3 separate regions of the Homo sapiens genome follow, and all the other regions are linked to region 1. Evidence: fine-mapped QTL for protein levels in blood plasma. A gene starts in region 1. Each other region holds a variant in brackets. All regions are shown on one strand. Distances are between the middles of the regions.

Evidence for each region. PIP is the chance, under the fine-mapping model, that this variant and not a neighbour inherited with it causes the effect. Protein levels are from antibody-based Olink assays in UK Biobank. Linkage for the fine-mapping came from a reference panel and not from the study's own genotypes, which makes the PIPs less certain.
Region 2: its variant is fine-mapped to the plasma level of the MOCS2 protein (UK Biobank, PIP above 0.99).
Region 3: its variant is fine-mapped to the plasma level of the MOCS2 protein (UK Biobank, PIP above 0.99).

The regions. Positions count from the first base shown.
Region 1 is chr5:53,108,776-53,111,631 of GRCh38, reverse strand. It overlaps MOCS2 (molybdenum cofactor synthesis 2), which reads left to right and starts at 1,875. Exons shown (of 7, transcript NM_004531.5): 1 at 1,875-2,381. It overlaps MOCS2-DT (MOCS2 divergent transcript), which reads right to left and starts at 1,790. Exons shown (of 2, transcript NR_104654.1): 1 at 1,484-1,790. RefSeq lists a silencer at 1,847-2,136.
Region 2 is chr5:53,092,485-53,095,340 of GRCh38, reverse strand. ITGA2 (integrin subunit alpha 2) reads right to left here. Exons shown (of 30, transcript NM_002203.4): 30 at 562-2,856. Among named protein-coding and RNA genes, the nearest start is that of MOCS2, 16 kb to the left of the region's middle. The variant T/C (reference allele first, on the strand shown) is at 1,743.
Region 3 is chr5:53,048,860-53,051,333 of GRCh38, reverse strand. All of the region lies in intron 6 of ITGA2 (integrin subunit alpha 2), which reads right to left. Among named protein-coding and RNA genes, the nearest start is that of MOCS2, 60 kb to the left of the region's middle. The variant A/C (reference allele first, on the strand shown) is at 2,129.

The DNA of each region.
Region 1 (2,856 bases):
TAAGAAACCTGAATTGATATTTTGTAACTATATGTTCCCACTTTGGACAGTTTCCATTTTTTTTTAATATTCTGATGTCATTTACATTTTATTTTATAATCATATCCCATAATTGATATCTTAGTTTTACGTTTGAATGGGTTAAAATCTCAATGCCAGTTTTTTTAGTTTTTCATTTTTCCCATATTAATACCTTTATTGCTGAGTTATTTACTTTGATTACTCTTGATTGAGTGGACTTTTTGCCCAAGAAAGATTTTTAAGAAGGGTTCTTGGGTATTGTGTTTTTTGAGTTTTTGCTGATTTAGGAGAATCCTGCCCCACCAGTTTGGCTGTAATATTATGGGATCATGCTTTTGTTCTCAGCCTTTTTTACACACTGCACATTGCCATCAGATGCCACTGAGGAGTCTAAGGCCACTATTGTCATTCCCTTGTTTTTATGCCTGGGTGTGAATATAGTCTTTATCCTTTATGTTTAGCAACTTTACCAGGATACACATTGGTATTCATTGCTCCTTGTCAATTTTTCCTACCAAGGACTCTCCAGCCTCACTTCTCATCACCTCCTTTGCTGGAGGCACACCTGCCTTGCCAACTACTTGCCCTTCTGTGAACTTATTATGCTTCTTCATATCCCTGTGGCTTGTCAGAGGCAAGTGAAATTTCTTCGTGCTCTACTCCCACTCTTGTCATTTACTGCCACCATTCTAGCAGATTTACCTTCTCAGCATCTTCTCACTCCCCAGGTGACACAACCACTTTCCCCTTCCACCCTTGAAATGTAACACAGATCCTTAGTATTACAGGGAATTATCATTCATATTTAAAACTCTCCTACCCAGGACTGTGAGCTCCAAGGAAAGGGACGTGTAACTTACATCCACTTAACGACGCAAGCAATTTAAAGCCAAGAGTTCTTGTTGGCAAGAATTGGGAAAGTTGGACGGACAGTATACAATTACCGAGCAGCCAATAAACAGGAAAAGTCATACAGTTCGAATGTTCTGACCAGGCGGATATTCTGTCTTTAAGAAACACTAATCATATACCTGGGAAAGAAAAAAATCTTGGGCCCCTTCAAACTGGGAATTACTCAGGGCAAATCTGCCTCCTATTCTATCCAAGTCACCTCTTTTGCTGACAAAGAATAGATGCATATTCTGATTGCCTCCTTTAGAAAGACTTATCAGAAACTCAAAAGAATGCTACTGTCTATTACCTACCTGGAAGCCCCCAGTTGGGGGGGGCGGGGCTTGCTTTTAACGGTCTCCGCCTTTCTGGAAGGAACTAATGTACTTTTTACATATTGATTGATGTCTCCTGTCTCCCCAAAATGTATAAAACCAAGCTGTGCCCTGACCACCTTGGGCACATGTCCTCAGGACTTCCTGAGGCTGTGTCACGGGCATGTCCTCAACGTTGGCAAAATAAACTTTCTAAGTTAACTGAGACCTGTCTCAAATTTTCGAGGTTCACATACCGTAGGTAAAAGTGTCAGAAGCCTAAAGGTGAGCCAGTGGAAAAGCCTGAAGACCCCTGCAAGGTTATTAGCTAAGCCTCCATAACGCAGGCGGCAAGTGTCCAGGAGTCTGGCGTCTGCTCGCCTGCACCACGACCTCCCTCCTGGGGAGAAGGACATGCATGGTAAGCCATTTCTCCATTTCCATACTGATTGCTTCCTCTCACCACCACGGCCCATCTGCGAAGCAAAACTAATCCTGGCGTGGAACAGGCCGCCTGAGGGAAACAGCTAGAGCCCGGCGCGGGGCGGAGCTGGTTGTGCGCATGCTCCGTGCAGGCGCAGGCGGGGGCTGAGCGCCGTCGGGTTACGCCTGCGCTCCGGGTGAGCCCGCGCCTGCGCCTTTGCGGCCGTGATTCGGTCCCGCTGTCCTAGGCGGGATGGTGCCGCTGTGCCAGGTAAGGGTGGCGGGTGTGCGTGCGGGCCTGGGTGCGGAGCCCTCCTCGACGTGTCTCTCCCGCCCTTTCCCTCCACATACCCAGCCTTGGTCAGTCGGACCTCCCCACTAGCCCCCAACCTGGCCGGCGTCTTGGGTTCGGGGGCGCCCCCGCCCCCGCCCCCGGGCCCTTCCTGTCTCCGGGCTTTACTGCGACTGCCCCAGCAGAAGTCGGGTCCTCTCCGAGAACTCTTGTCAGCTCACGGCAGCAAGGACGGACTCGTTCTGAAGGCGCCTCCACCTTTTATGACCACCTCTTTCCCAGATTATTCGTTTTGATGAAGCTAAAATTTTAATCTAAAAAGAAATGCACCTCATGGAGAATTCTTGTGAAGAACTGTGCTTCATCTGTGGATTTCTACACCCTTGATCATTTGCAAACCTGTAATTATTTCGTAAAGAGTTGTTTGCACGGAGTGACAGGTGCCTATTTTACTTCGTCGGATCCCTTACATACCAGGCTGCTGGCACAAGTTTGTTCTAGCAAATTCCAGTCTGTCGTGTGTTTCAAACCTACTTGCTTCTGTAAATGTCAGATTTACTATGTTGCATAACTTAATCCTTAGCGTCTGGGGACGATGTTATACAGACCGGAATCTAAGGTCATTTGACAACCGTGAGAAACAGGTTTTTCGCTTATTTATTCATTTATTTTATTTGTGTAACTCATCTCTTGACTCAAACATTTGTTCTTTGCTTACATATTTATAAAAGGTGCTATACTTTTATGTCAATTAAGGCAGGCTTAACATGTTTTCCTAGAAGATAAATACTTAGGATTTTAATGATGGCACACTTAAGTTTGTAAAACTAAAAGGCATCCAGAAATTAGTCTGAATTGTATTTAAAACAACAAGTTTTCAGAATTTGAACTTGTAGGTATACTGAAATTTTTTAC
Region 2 (2,856 bases), 16 kb after region 1:
AGCGATGGCAGTCTGTGAGCCCAACGTGTACTTACTTTATAACTTACAGCATATTTATTTCAGCATATTTACTCTTTAAAAATATTTAAACCTTCCTGCTTATTATGATTTTTTTTAAACTGTGCAGATGACTCTGCTTTTGCATGTTGCAGCAGTTTGGCTGATTTTTTTTCCCTCTCTATTCCAAGCACACATTTTATTTCAAAAGGTAAGCTTTAGAGCAGTGCTTCTCAACTTCAATGCAATATGAATCACCTGGGGATGCTGTAGAACTTACAATTTGACTTGAATAGTTTTGAGTGGCCCCTGAGATCTGTGTTTTTTAACAGGCTCCAGGTGATGCAGCACCATCTGTCCCTGGGCCACACTTTGAGGAGCAATGCTTTACACTGTCTCAAAACTTCGAAGGCAGTTTAAGAGTCTTACAAAAGAAGATCCTTGTGGTCACTGCTAGAAACATAGACTGGACACTTATGGCAAATTAATTATAGCCTCAGTCTTCTTAAATTGAGTCTTGGATGTGAGCAAAGTGAATGTATAAGATAAAAATAGTAAAATATATAACTTATAAAAGCCCAAAGAAAATGGCTTTATTTTCAAAACAATTGTAACAATATTCAATAATGTGGTATGAAAAAAGTGGGTTACAATAATGAAACTTTTCTGTTTGTTATACTTGGATATGAGAAAAACTACTAACTGTTGACTACAATTTAATTTTTGTTTCTCATAAATCAAATGAATTCTGCAACTTTTTGTACAAACATGCATTTATTTTTACAGTTTTTGTGGAAAGAGGCAAAACACATTTAATCAAAAACATCAAACACCACATTTGAAAAAAGACTTATCTATTATGTATAAAGGAAAATATCCAAGACAATTTCTTTAAAATATATACAATTCTAACATAGTTATGCAATATATACATTCATATTTTGACTTAATCTGCCAAAATAAACAGGTACATATGAAACTTTATTTACATAATGGCTACAGTTTCAGTCTTTAGAGTTCAAAGAAATAGTTAAGATTTTCACCTATTTCATACTTTTCCCCCATGTTTCTCATTCACCTCTAGAGGTTTAAATTAACCTTTCAAATTGATTAAAATGGGTATGCCTGAATGTACACAAAAGGGCATTGTTTTATGTGTGCAAATTGAAATATTAAAGATGGATCAGGGATCTCAGTTTAAGGAATCCTGCCTTCTGTATGATGATGTCTTAATTTTTGAGATTTTCATATATTGGGTTATAGCTATATATCAGGACAGGTAAATACATTATAAAATTATAACCTTTATAATAATTTTTAGTATAATCACTTGTGTGACTATAATAAATTGGCTTTAGTTTTACTCTTCACAGTTTTAATAGGTAACTATTTTACAAGAATAACATTGCTAGGTAGAAAAATTTCTGTTCAGTTAGGAGTTCTTATTTTGCTGCTGAAATGAGTCATGCACAATTTTAAATCTCTGTAGTTTCTTCATAAGCTATTTTACTATCTTACTATTTTATAAGCCTTGTGTTGCAGTCAAGTTTTTACCACATTCTATAGACCTTGTCTGTACACCATTTATGAAATGGAAATTTGAATATGACATCTTTTATGCCCTCTACTTACTTTTAAAGCAAAAATATTGTTGAATAGGAACACATAGCTTTTATTTAAACAATGTTTTTTCCCCCTAAATTTCTTGTATGAATACTTACCTTTGCTTAAAAGTGCTTGAGAAA[T/C]ACTGCCCCCCAGGAGGCATTTGACAATGTCTGGAGACATTTTTTGATTGTCATGACTGCGGGGGGAGCATGCTCTGGCATCGGGTAGCTAGAGGCCAGGAATGCTGCTAAACATACCTTCTAGGACAGGGCTGCTGTCCTACAAGGTACAGGACAGCCCCTGCAAGGAAGAATCACCTGGCCCCAAATGACAGTAGCGCCCAGGTTGAGAGACCCTGTCCTGGTGTGATAAATGGTGCAGAGACAAGTGGCTAATGGTTTATAGTAATTCAACTACTCCCTGGAAACAGTGTAAACTAGGCTGATTACCTAAGGCAAGGCTAACCAAAGCTTTCAAGTTCCGTATATGTATGTTTAGCACTTATTTAAGGAAGTACTCACCTAAAGGAGGTGAGACAGAGTAAAAGGAAGGATGTGCTATAATTGTTTGTATAGCACATTGAAAAGCTAGTATTTACATATACAGTACTAACTTTTTTTTTGTTTGTTTGTTTGAGACAGAGTCTTGCCCTGTCACCCAGGCTGGAGTGCAGTGGCGCGATCTCGGCTCACTGAAACCTCTGCCTCCCGGGTTCAAGTGATTCTCCTGCCTCAGCTTCCCGAGTAACTGGGATTACAGGCACCTGCTACTACGCCCAGCTAATTTTTATATTATTAGAGATGGGGTTTCACCATGTTGGCCAGGCTAGTCTCAAACTCCTGACCTCGTGATCCACCGGCCTCAGCCTCCCAAAGTGTTGGGATTACAGGTGTGAGCCACCGTGCCTGGCCACATTGTCTTTTTAAATAGTCATTTTTTTGAGACAGGGTCTTGCTATGTTGCTTAGGCTGGACTTGAACTCCTGGGCTCAAGCGATCTTCCTGTCTCAGTCTCTCAAGTAGCTGGAGCTTCAGGTACACACCAGCACCACTAGCTGTTAAATATTCTTTATCAAGCTAATGACTAGTTTCTCCAGTCTTTTTTTTTTTTTTTTAAATAAAATTTTGTTGGAATGAAGCAGCAAATTCTCACAGCTGTTAAAAGAATTGGACTCTGGCATACCTAACTGGAGAATACCATGCTGTTTTTTCTATAAACCGCTGGCATTTTATGCCTTTTTTGTTTGTTTTGTGT
Region 3 (2,474 bases), 60 kb after region 1:
CAAAAGTACATTTAGACATGGGCCGGTAGCTTTAAGGCATCACTTCCAACTTTGTTCTTGATAGTTACTTTTCTTTCAATGGAATGATTTCTTCTCTGTTAGAGGCCATCAGTGTACAACAGCAGTACTATTGCCAAGAAAGATGATGTGCTACAGTGTATGATTTGATTCCCAAGAGTAATATTTGTAGTTTTTAATACTGCCATATAATATTTTAATATGGATGACTATTAGAACACTGTTTTTAACAGGAAGATTAAACTTGATATAAATAAACTTTCTAATTACCAATGGACAGAAGCTCGCGAACAACTATAAGCAATCACAGATGAAGAGTAACATCTCATCAAAGGATGGTAACTGTGTAATAAATAATTAGAATTGAATACAACAAAAACCAATGTGCTCCTAATCAGCGTAGTCAATTGAGGTCTATTTATTGTGCTGAATTTCCTCTATTATGGGCTTCAACAACACTGGAAAGAAGATGCTATATGTGCATATGGGGCAGGGAGTTTCTGGCTTTCAGAGAAAATGCCACTGGAGAGCATCTTATTTGAAAGAATTTCTGAACAAGATGTTTGGGAGCATTCCCTAATCCTAGAGATCAATAAGGTCACACCCTTCTGTTAATGTCCTTGTTTGCAGGCATTGAGATCATCCTCTAAGCCTAGGAGATGGGCTTTCCAGAACAGGAGTGGCAGTGAGGGATCTCTGAATGGCAATAAGAGGCTCTCTGAAATACAGGTCAGTATGTAAGGAGGTGGAAGCGGTGAGGACTGGATTTCTGAGTTCCATCTGCTGTGTTTTGCCAAGGGAGCAGTGAGCTAGGCACTGGGAAGATAGTGAGAAATATAATATTCCTGGACCCCTTTCTCTAGGGATGTAAGACTTGAGAGGGAGGAAAGAATAAAAAATAACTGAGAATTTCAAAGTCCAATACGAGAGGAAGATGGTAGTAATCCCACGACAGAGCCCCAGGACTTCTGTGTGAAAAAGAAGAAAAAAGATTTAAAGAAATGTGGTAGGTTAGAACTTACAGGAAGGTCAAATTTAGGCTGTAAGAAAAGAGATTGAGTTAAACCACTTCTAGAGAGGAATCAGATGCACTGTGGTAGGAAGACACAAAAGAGGAAGACTGTGAATTCTATATAGGAGACTTAAATAAAATTAGTCACATTATGAGGGTAACTCATTTAGAAACAGAGGAAATAAGGAGATACATATGAAAACTTATAAGGGGCTTTAAGAGTGGTGCTTTCTGGAAACCAGTGCTATATGTAGTTTTATTTAGCGGAATGTCCTGGAAAATGCCCACAGGGAAATTTCCAAAGCTTCTGTGGGTATTGAGATACTCTTGGTACTGAAAAGCAATTTCAATGGGAGAAACATATAACAACATGTTATAATAGTGAACAGGAAAGCAGAGAAGCAAATTTCAATAAAGATAGCTGGAAAGCATTTAGGGAAAAATATGTCAACAATTTGTATTAGATGTTGGACATTAGAGTATAAGATGCAATCCATGAGCATACACTGGTAACAGTGAACTGGTCCGGGTTGACACTGGTTCAGTATACTGCTACAACCAGAATGGCTCAGGAAATGGCAGATTCAATCAGAAAGGAAAAAAAAAATCCAAAACCAGAAACTGAACTTTAAAATAATACTATTGAGCTTTAGGTGCCTACCTCAAGAAGATGTAAAAGCAAATTAAAGACTTCTTAAAATATAAAGAACTATATAAAATTATTGAAAAGACCTTTTCTGTAGGCAAAAGGGCAAGCTAAACTGGAATATGATAAATAACTATAAAATATTATCATAAATGCTGGAACTATGCTTAGTGACTTATTTATACAAATTTCAGAATTCAATAATTGTTTTACCAGCAAGGAATAAACAAAAGAAATTAATTATTGGTCCAAATGGACATAAAAATACATATTGAATTTTAAAATGTAACTCATGGGTTAGAAGGGAAAGACAGGAAACTAAAGGAAGATTAAAATGTTATATCCTGGCCGGGCATGGTGGCTCATGCCTGTAATCCCAGCACTTTGGGAGGCTGAGGCAGGTGGATCACCTGAGGTCAGGAGTTCAAGGCCAGCCTGGCCAACATGGTGAA[A/C]TCCTGTTTCTACTAAAAATACAAAAATTAGCTGGGTGTGGTGGCAGGAGCCTGTAATACCAGCCACTCGGGAGGCTGAGGCAAAAGAATCGCTTGAACCCAGGAGGCAGAGGTTGCAGTGAGCCTAAATCGTGCCATTGCACTCCAGCCTAGGTGACAAGAGCAAGACTTGGTCTTAAAAAAAAAAAAAAAAGTTATGTCCCATACCTTTAATGCTTGTGTCAGAAATAGAACTCTAAGGTCAAAAGACCAGCACTGGGCAAAGCCATAGGTAGAATAACCCAATGTAGTAAAAGTTTCAATTAACTTTAAAAACTACCATCAAATGCATTTAAAATGGGGATTT